Linked DNA regions of Homo sapiens: region 1 is linked to region 2. The links come from fine-mapping of genetic effects on gene expression. A gene starts in region 2. The other region holds a variant in brackets. All regions are shown on one strand. Distances are from middle to middle. Region 1 has its middle 22 kb from the start of TMEM18-DT. Region 2 holds the start of TMEM18 (transmembrane protein 18).

Region 1 (4,390 bases), 22 kb after region 2:
AAAAAAATGAGTAAACAATTTGATTACAAAAGCATGCTGTCTATCAAGCAGAATAAATACAAAACAAAGATACATCTGGACATACTGGAGTAAAATTGAGAATAACCAGTCTAAACGTAAAATATGTAAGACAGAGAGAAAACTTTGGCACTGTCTAATAAGAATGACAATTCGGTAGACTGCAGACCTCCAAAAGCAATACTAAAAGTTAAGAGAAGTTTGGAATAATCCCTTAAAATGCTGATAGAAAATAATTGTCAACCTGGATGTGTGTGCCCTGTAAAATTATATTTCATGAATAAGAACAAATTTAAAACATTTCAGCTGAAGAAAATTGGGAGGGTTTACTACACACAGACTCCCTGAAGAAACTACTAAGAGATGTCCTCCTTTTACCAGGTGATAGTAAAAGAAGTAAGAAGTTATGGAAGAAAATGAATTGGTTATTTGTTTAAATCTAAAACACATTACAGAAAATTATGATGATTGTGACATTAATGATATTATAATAATAACATGCATTTGAGAGAGAGAGAGAAAGATAAAGTACTGGACAGCAGTAACCGATAATTCAGGAGAACACAATTGAACATAATCTAATTGTTCAAGCTCTTTATTCTTTACTTTTTAGGAGAAGACTACAGATATTGCTATGGGCTGGATCGTGTGCTCTCAGAATTTATACGTCCATTCCTAGCCACCAGTGGGACTGTATTTGGTGGTGGCTCCAATAAGGAGATCATCAGGGTAGAAGGAGGTCACCGGGCGGGGCATGGTCCCATCAGGCTGGTGTTCTGATAAGAGGAGACACCACTGAGCTCTCGACTTAGAAGAACACAAGGAGAAACCCTCACAGGAAACAAATTGGGTGCCTCCTTCCTGCCCTGATCTTCAGTGCCCAGCCTCCACAACTGTGAGAAAATAAATTTTTGGTGTTTAAGCCCCTCAGTTTGTGGTGTTTGTTAGAGCAGTCTGAGTTAAGACAGATACTAATTAACTTCAGGCCTTGTTAAGTAACTATTAAAGAAATATGAATGTAGTATATAACCATCAAATCTGTAGAGACAAGAAAACAGAAAAAGAAAACAATCCAAAATAAGATAAGAAAGAAAAAAACTTAAAAAATAAATACATATATATATAAAATAATGTTTTAAATAAAATTTAAAAATAAAAACATACACACAAAACCAAGTCCATTATTTAAGTTTATTGTGGCAAACTTGATTCTCAAACTAGACAAGAGAAGCACAAGAAAGAACACATAGAAACTTCTATAAATGCAGATGGAAAACTTGCCTATGTTAAGAAAATGAACCCAGCTGTGTATTGAAGAGAAAACACAACATAACTCAGTTTACAATTGTGAAGAGTTCAATGGCTTCAGAAAAAAACATTTGATAAAATTCAAAACTCATGAACTGAAAAACAAAATGAACTAATCGAGCAAAAACTATTGACAAAGTAGGAAAAAAGGAAAACTTTTGTAACTTAATAAAGACTATCTAAACAGTTAAGTAATCGCAGCACTTCATCCCTAATGTGGAAAATCTAGAACATCTCCTGTTACAGACACTTAAGGCCCTCAGGTGCCTCTCACTTCCCAGCACTAAGGACACATGCATTGGGTTTTCTTATGGCTGCACCCCAGTCTTGGTACAAAATCTCTTTTACTTACTAGTACCTTGTGATGAACAACCTCAAGCCTCAGCTAATGAAAACAGCAGCAGTCACAGTGTTGCTCACAGATCTGTAACTTGGGCAGAGATCCCAGGAGACAGCTTGCCTTTGCTTCATACACTTCAGCTTGGGGCAGCAGGAAGTTTCACTTTCCACATGGACTTGCCCTTGTGACTAGCTGGTTGGTGTTGATCAGCAGCAAGGGCTGTGGGTTGGGGCCATGGCAGGGCAGGCCATACAGGCCTCCTCATGGCCTCTTGGGCTGCCTCACAACAAGGTGGCTGGTTCCAAGAACAAAAGTCTCAAGACAACAAGGTGCATCACTTTTTCATCCCATGTCATCCCACTCACAGGGGAAGTCACAAAGACTGCCTGGGACCCAGGACAGGGACACGGCACCCCATATCCTGGTAGGT[G/A]TGTCAAAGTCAGAGTCCCACTGTGAAGGAGCAAGTGTGATGAGGGCTTGTCTTGTGCCGTCTTTGGAAAATGCAATCAGCCACTGCTGATTTTTTCTGTGTGATTAATTATGTGGTTTTCTCTTGGGGGAGGAGTGTCCAGGTATATTTTAATGGTTTGACAATGTTCTACTTGCCATAGACAACACAGTGTTCATTTTTTCTTAGGCTTTATAACTTTGATGTGTAATACATATGTTCCTCTGTGAGACTCAAATACTTCACTTAGAAAATCTCATCATCTGACAACCTCCTTTGCCTGTGCAGAGCTGTGGTGAATTTTCCATCGCTCTTAGGTCCTCAGAATAAAACCCAATGCCTGCACCACGTGTATGACAACCTTTGTGACGTGGCCTCCACGGAGAGCCTCATTTTTAGGATGGTAACTTACTCAGAGTGCTGCACCCGCACTGATCCTGTAGAACAAGTGTCTTTCCTCGTAGTGGCCCCAGCAGGCTTCCGCCTCTGCTCAGAGCGTGCCTCTGGCTGAGGCTTATGTTGATCTGCTTCTGCACGGCCATCACCTCCTCAGAGGGGACTTCCTGGGCCCCCATCTAAAGTGTCACCCACTCATCTCCACCCAGAAGCCCCACTTTATATTATATTACAGAAGTTTTATCTAAACTCATTCTGCTCCCTGATGAACTCGCTTGCACTTCCTTAAATGCACACTGGAAGGTGTGCATCCCGAGGGCAGAGCCTGTCCTCCCTGTGCCCCAGTGCTGGGAGCCATGTTTACATCAGAAACCTCCTGGGAAGTGGTTTTGAGTGAACCATTTCATCACAACAACCCTGTAAGGTAAATGATATTATTTCCATATTTTAGATGAAAAAAGAGATTTCCAGAAAAATGAAAAATTCTGCAGTCCACAGTGATGTTGGTATGGGATCTGGAGCTGTCGTGGCCCAAAGCCAGAGTCCTTTTCTCCTTCCTGACTCAGTGCTGTCAATCTCTGATGTCAGAAGAGCGAGCACCGAAGACAGAAAACAGCGTCCTACACTCAGCGGCAAGGAGAGTTTGAGGAACACACAAGGAGATCTGGAAGCCCGTGGTGTTGCCTCCTCACCAGGAGGCCATGGTGGTCTTGGGAGGTGCCCATGCTCTACTCTGTGTGCCAGCTGAGCAGGAAGTGGACAGAGAAGCAAGGTTGGGTCACATTCTCTGTGTAGAGTGTTTCTCCTTCTCATCATATGTTTATATACTTGGAGGGGATGGGTGGAGATTTCTTGCACGCATGGATTGTGTGGTGGTGAAGGTGGGGCAGCTGTCACCCGAATAGTGAGCATCATATCCCACAGGCAATTCCCCAGCCCTCAGCTACTCCCCACCTCCCACCTTCTCCAGTGTCTGTGCATCCGCTCTGCACATCCACATGTGTTCCCACCTTCTCCGGTGTCTGTGTGTCCGCTCTGCACGTACACATGTGTAAAGAACTTGACACTGCGACCCGGTCAGGAGACAGCGGCAGGTGTGTGAGGCACGAAGCCAGGAGGAGCCGGGGCTGCAGCACAGCAGGGAAATAATAAATTTGTGCTGGAAAAGGGTGCTTGGGAGGAGAATCTAAGAACCTCATGGAGAAACATGGTTTGGGTACGAGAAGGAATTTGTCCCACATTAAGAAGTAGATAGAGGCATATGTTTTGCGAACCCTGGGAAATGGATGGGAACCCCCAGGCCCCAGGTGCCCCATGCTTCCCACAGTGGACGCCATGAGGACAGCCTCAGCTCACTGTCAGGACCTCCACCTCCAGTGGGTCAGCTCCCTGGCACCCAAATATGCGAGGCTACTACACGCCAGGCACTGTGGCTGGTGTTTCAAGAAGCTGTCAAGGTCATACAGATACAAAGTCCACAAGCTGGAAGCAGAGACTGGGGCCGGTGATAGAAGTTGACCACCCCTTCTGTGGCTCCCCACCCCTAGCTGAGAGTCCAGGTGGAAGTGAACCAAGCTCCTAGACAATGTGGAACGTACCGTTTAGGCGTTGAAGGAAAGCATGAACACTTGTATTATCTCAGCCACGGGGAAGACTTGACAGAGCCACTGATTTACAGCAATCTTACTGTGGCCTGTACCCAGTCTGTGAGAAAACTATGCAATCATACAAGATTGTATTTAAGGTTCAATATGTTTTTAATTTTTCAAAAGACATCACTTGGGGGTAGGCCCAGATTGGAGAAGCAGGAGGTTTAGGAGCCGATGAAATGGAAGGTGTGGATGTGGGAGGACACTGCGGAAAGACAGCTGAGCCTGCAG
Region 2 (4,390 bases):
GCCACTGCACTCCAGCCTAGGCAACAAGAGCAAAACGCAAAAAAAAAAAAAAAAAAAAAAAAAAAAGGAAAGGGAAGAGAAGAGAAGGGTGGCGAGGGAAGGGGAAGGGAGGGGAGGGGCTTCATCCAGTCTTTTCTGGAAGCACAAAATTCCAGGTAAATGGAATAGAGTCCATGTCAGCATTCACATACCAACAGAGAGAGCAGGCCATGTTCTACTGGCCACATTAAAATAGCAAAGAGAAAGAGATTAATTTTATTGATATATTTTATTTGGTCCAGTATGTCCAAAATATAATTTCAACATGTAAGCAAAATAATACAATTGTTGATAATGTATTTTACATTTTGGTACAAAGTCTTTGAAAGATGGTGTATGTTTGAAATTAAAGCACATCTCAGACTGGCGACATTGCACAAGCTTCACGTCTAAATGTCCGGCAGCCTAGCGTTGTTCAGAACGGCAGGGCGGGAGGAATGTGGAAGATGAATGTCCTGGGACTGAAAGTGAAGCTGCTGAGGGCCAGAGTTTTAACAATTTTGGAAACTTGGGTGCCAGGGCGCACAATATATGAAAGATCTGGGAGGGCGGCTGAGGGGAAGATGAAGAGAAAAAATCCCAGTGACCGTAGATAGGCTGTGGTTAATATTAATAGCAAAAAGAGTTTGACCCCAAATTACAGAAGTTACAAGAAAACAGACACCACAAAAGAAAGGCAGGCACCAGACAGGACTGACGATGAAACTAACCCATGGAAATTAATAAGAGTGATGTTTCACATAGTAACGAAATATCATCAGGGAGATACACAGTAACAGGCTGAACTGAAGAGGACAGATCTATTCCCTGTAACTGAAAGGTCCTGTTGAAAATAGCTGAACAAACACAGGGGAGTGAGAATGGACACAGATGAAAACCATCACACCAGCTGGGTGCGGTGGCTCATGCCTGTAATCCCAGCACTTTGGGAGGCCCAGGCGGGTAAATCACTTGAGGTCAGGAGTTCAAAACTAGCCTGGCCAACATGGTGAAACCCCGTCTCTACTAAAAATACAAAAAAAATTAGCCAGGTGAGGTGGCGAACACCTGTAATCCCAGCTACTCGGGAGGCTGAGGCAGGAGAATAGCTTGAACCCAGGAGGCGGAGGTTGCAGTGAGCCGAGGTCCCACCATTGTGCTCCAGCCTGGGCGACAGAGCGAGACATCGTCTTAAAAAAAAAAAAAAAAAACCAGGAAAGCCAAGCCCGAGATTTCCCAAACTCAGCAACAACAGTCGTGATGTTTTGAGAGGAAGGTTGAGAAACACAAAAGAGAGGAAGATGCACTATCTACCTAACGGGATGTTCCTGGAGTTGAATACAGGAAGAATAGAGAAAAATATCAATGAAAGAAATGTTTTCCCATAAGAAGAAACCATGACCTTCTACACTGAAATGAGAGAATGCATGTTAAGTAGCATAAGCAGAAATGACCACACTGTGGAAAGATTTTAAGAAAGATCTGGGAGGGGTTAAAGCTATTAAAAAAAAAAAAAAGTCCACCACTAGAACTATTTTTAGAAACATTAAACTAGTTCAAGAGCTAACATATGCAATTAAAGTATATACACTTAATAATTCATGATGTTAAAATAACAGAATGTTTAATTTGAAAATGTCAAAGTTGGGGTATAGATGTTAAAATAAAGGGAAAAAATTCGCTGGAAGAAAATTAACTTTATATTTTTGTATCTGTCGTTGAACAACGAAGTGAAGCGTAAGAACATCTGGTAAATCTCCAAAGTGAAGACAGATAACCCTAAGCTGACCCAGACTAAGAGTGCACTGCCCTTAGGGTCGCGAGAGCAGACACCTTCCCAAGTCCTGCAGGGTCCGAGGAGTGGGCAATGTCCCCGGCTCCTGCAGGGTCTCGGGGCGGACACCGTCCTCATTGATGCTCTGACCCTTCTAGGGAGTCCCAGGTGGGACAGGGCTGGCGTGGCGGTACAGCGCCCTGAGCCTTTGAAACAAACCTCCTAAATTCCACCCGCCTCCGCCTGCTCCTCTGTTAACGAACTAAAGACGCCCTCGGCCTCCTGGCGGAGCGAGCACAAGTCCCACAGCAGCGTAGTAAGTTTTCCGTATTACAGCGACCACCAGGAAATATCGCGATATCTGGACCTAGCAATGCCATGAAATTACCGCGAGAGGAAGCAAGCGCAAGTTTCGTGAGAAGGGCAGATCTCACGAGAGAGGATTTGGCGCCCTCCTCTGTGGATTCTGGCCAGGCCGGGTTCGGCGGTTGCTGTGAGAGCGGGCTTCCCAACACCATGCCGTCCGCCTTCTCTGTCAGCTCTTTCCCCGTCAGCATCCCAGCCGTGCTCACGGTAACTCGCGGCCCGCGTAACCACCAGTTCGGGGGAGGACGGCGGAGAGGCGTAGGGTAGGCCCCACAGAGCACCCGGCCTGTGGCCAAGAAGGCCCCGGCCGTGGGCGGGGCCTTGTGGCGGAGCGCGCGCGCTGGGCAGGGTCCTGAGACCTGTGGGAGTGGCTCGGGGCCGGCGTCGGGGGCGCGCGCTGTGGGCGGGGTCCTGGGCCCTGTGGGAGGGGGCCGGGGCCGGGCGTCGGGGCGCGAGCGCTAGGCGGGGTCCTGGGCCGTTGGGCGGGGAGGGGCGGGGCCGGGCGGGGCCTTGTGGAGGAGCGTGCGCAGTGAGCTGGCTCCGGCGCTCTGTGGCCCGGGCTTGGGCTGGGCTGGCGTCCTGCACCGTGCGGGCGTGGCTGAGTTGTGTGGGCGGAGCGCGAGGGGTAGGGCTTTGTTCGTGTGGGAGGTGCACGCCGGCCAGTCCAGCGTCTTGCGGGCGGGGCTTGGGCCATGTGGGCGGATTCTGGCAGTGCGGCGGGGCGTGCGTGGTGGAGCCTGATCGTGTGGGGTGGCACGGAGGAACGCTGCCCAGTGTGGGCGGGGCGTGCGCCGTGCCGGGTTCGTCTGACAGATCCCAGGGGAGCCCACGCCCCACGTGGCCGCCAAGGGGTGACATGGGCACTCGATGGGGTCTGGGCAGAAAGCCGTGCTCCCCTCACCTCCGTGCCTCTGGTCTTCTGGTGGGTGCATTGATGGGAGTAGATGCGCTTGTGTCCTTATGTCATGGCGCGGCTCTGGAGAAGCCGCTGCGGTCCCCAGCAGAGAGTAGTGACACAGGAGTTCTGGAGGGCTGTGCCGGGCTGCAGCTTGGAGGGCAGGGCGGGGCTGCAGCTTGGAGGGCAGGGCGGGGCTGCAGCTTGGAGGGCAGGGCTTGTCTTCTGCAGGAGGGCGCTCAAGGAGGGGATGGGGAGGGTTGAGGACTGCTGGGATTGGCATCTGAGCATCAGGTGGGGACTGAGCAGCAGTGGATCTGAGCCTGGCTACTTCAGGTCCCTGAGCCAGACACTGTCCCCAGGTACAGCAGGGTCCCGGGGAGTCCAGGAGGCGGCGGAGTGCGGCACTGTCTGGAGAGTTCAGTGTATTGCAGAGAGGTTGGAGAAAATCAAGTCTTGCACGTGGCGATGGCTCAAGATTCCCTGAGGTCTTCAGTGCTGACTAAGGAGTCTGAAATGATGATTCATGTTTTACCTTTGGGGCTGAGCCAAGTGCATCTCTTTGAGCAATCGTCTTAATTTCCTTGTCGTCACCAATTATCATAACCAATTATCATCGTAAAGGATGGTAATTCCTTTAATTATACCCACCTTAAAAACATGATTCTGTTCCACAAACGAAAGGAGCACATCAGAGATGCCTTCAGTTCTGTGTGCTTGAACTTTGAATTCCATGAATTATAGTTGCACTGAGGGGAGAATCCTGTTTCCATCCTCCTGGTTCCTTCTCCCTTTCCTGTCCCCATGTTTCTCTGAGGCCTGGCAATGCTCTCTGGATACTTGGTGAGTAGCCCAGGAGGACTCAGGAGTGAGAGGCCCCTGCCTCCTGCGCTGGGAGAAGGCTGTGGGTGGGCCGTGAACCCGGCCTTGAGTGGCAGGACAGTGAGTGTCTGCTGGTGTGTTCCTACAGCAGACGGACTGGACTGAGCCCTGGCTCATGGGGCTGGCCACCTTCCACGCGCTCTGCGTGCTCCTCACCTGCTTGTCCTCCCGAAGCTACAGACTACAGATCGGGCACTTTCTGTGTCTAGGTGAGTAAAACAACACAAACTCCACAACTCAGATCACTGTGTGAAATGAAACTGTGTATGTTCTGTCTGTGTCTTCGAAATATATACATATTTTTACAAGACCTCCCAACCCTCTGTCATGTGCCTGCTCCCAGGGCACTCCCGTTTTTCACTCTTGGAAGCTATAAAGAAAACTACTTTTTGGATGTTAGAGTTGAGAGGAATCTGTTGAGTTCCTGTTGCCTACCAGGGAGGTGCTGAGCACCA

What was found.
Region 1: its variant is fine-mapped to the expression of TMEM18 in sigmoid colon (GTEx, PIP above 0.99).

What each region holds. Positions count from the first base shown.
Region 1 is chr2:653,295-657,684 of GRCh38, reverse strand. No RefSeq gene overlaps it. Among named protein-coding and RNA genes, the nearest start is that of TMEM18-DT, 22 kb to the left of the region's middle. The variant G/A (reference allele first, on the strand shown) is at 2,097.
Region 2 is chr2:675,264-679,653 of GRCh38, reverse strand. TMEM18 (transmembrane protein 18) reads left to right here and starts at 2,248. Exons shown (of 5, transcript NM_152834.4): 1 at 2,248-2,365; 2 at 4,024-4,144. The coding sequence starts at 2,309. It overlaps TMEM18-DT (TMEM18 divergent transcript), which reads right to left and starts at 2,282. Exons shown (of 3, transcript NR_183417.1): 1 at 2,181-2,282. RefSeq lists enhancers at 2,106-2,175, 2,206-2,305, 2,208-2,973 and a silencer at 2,466-2,715.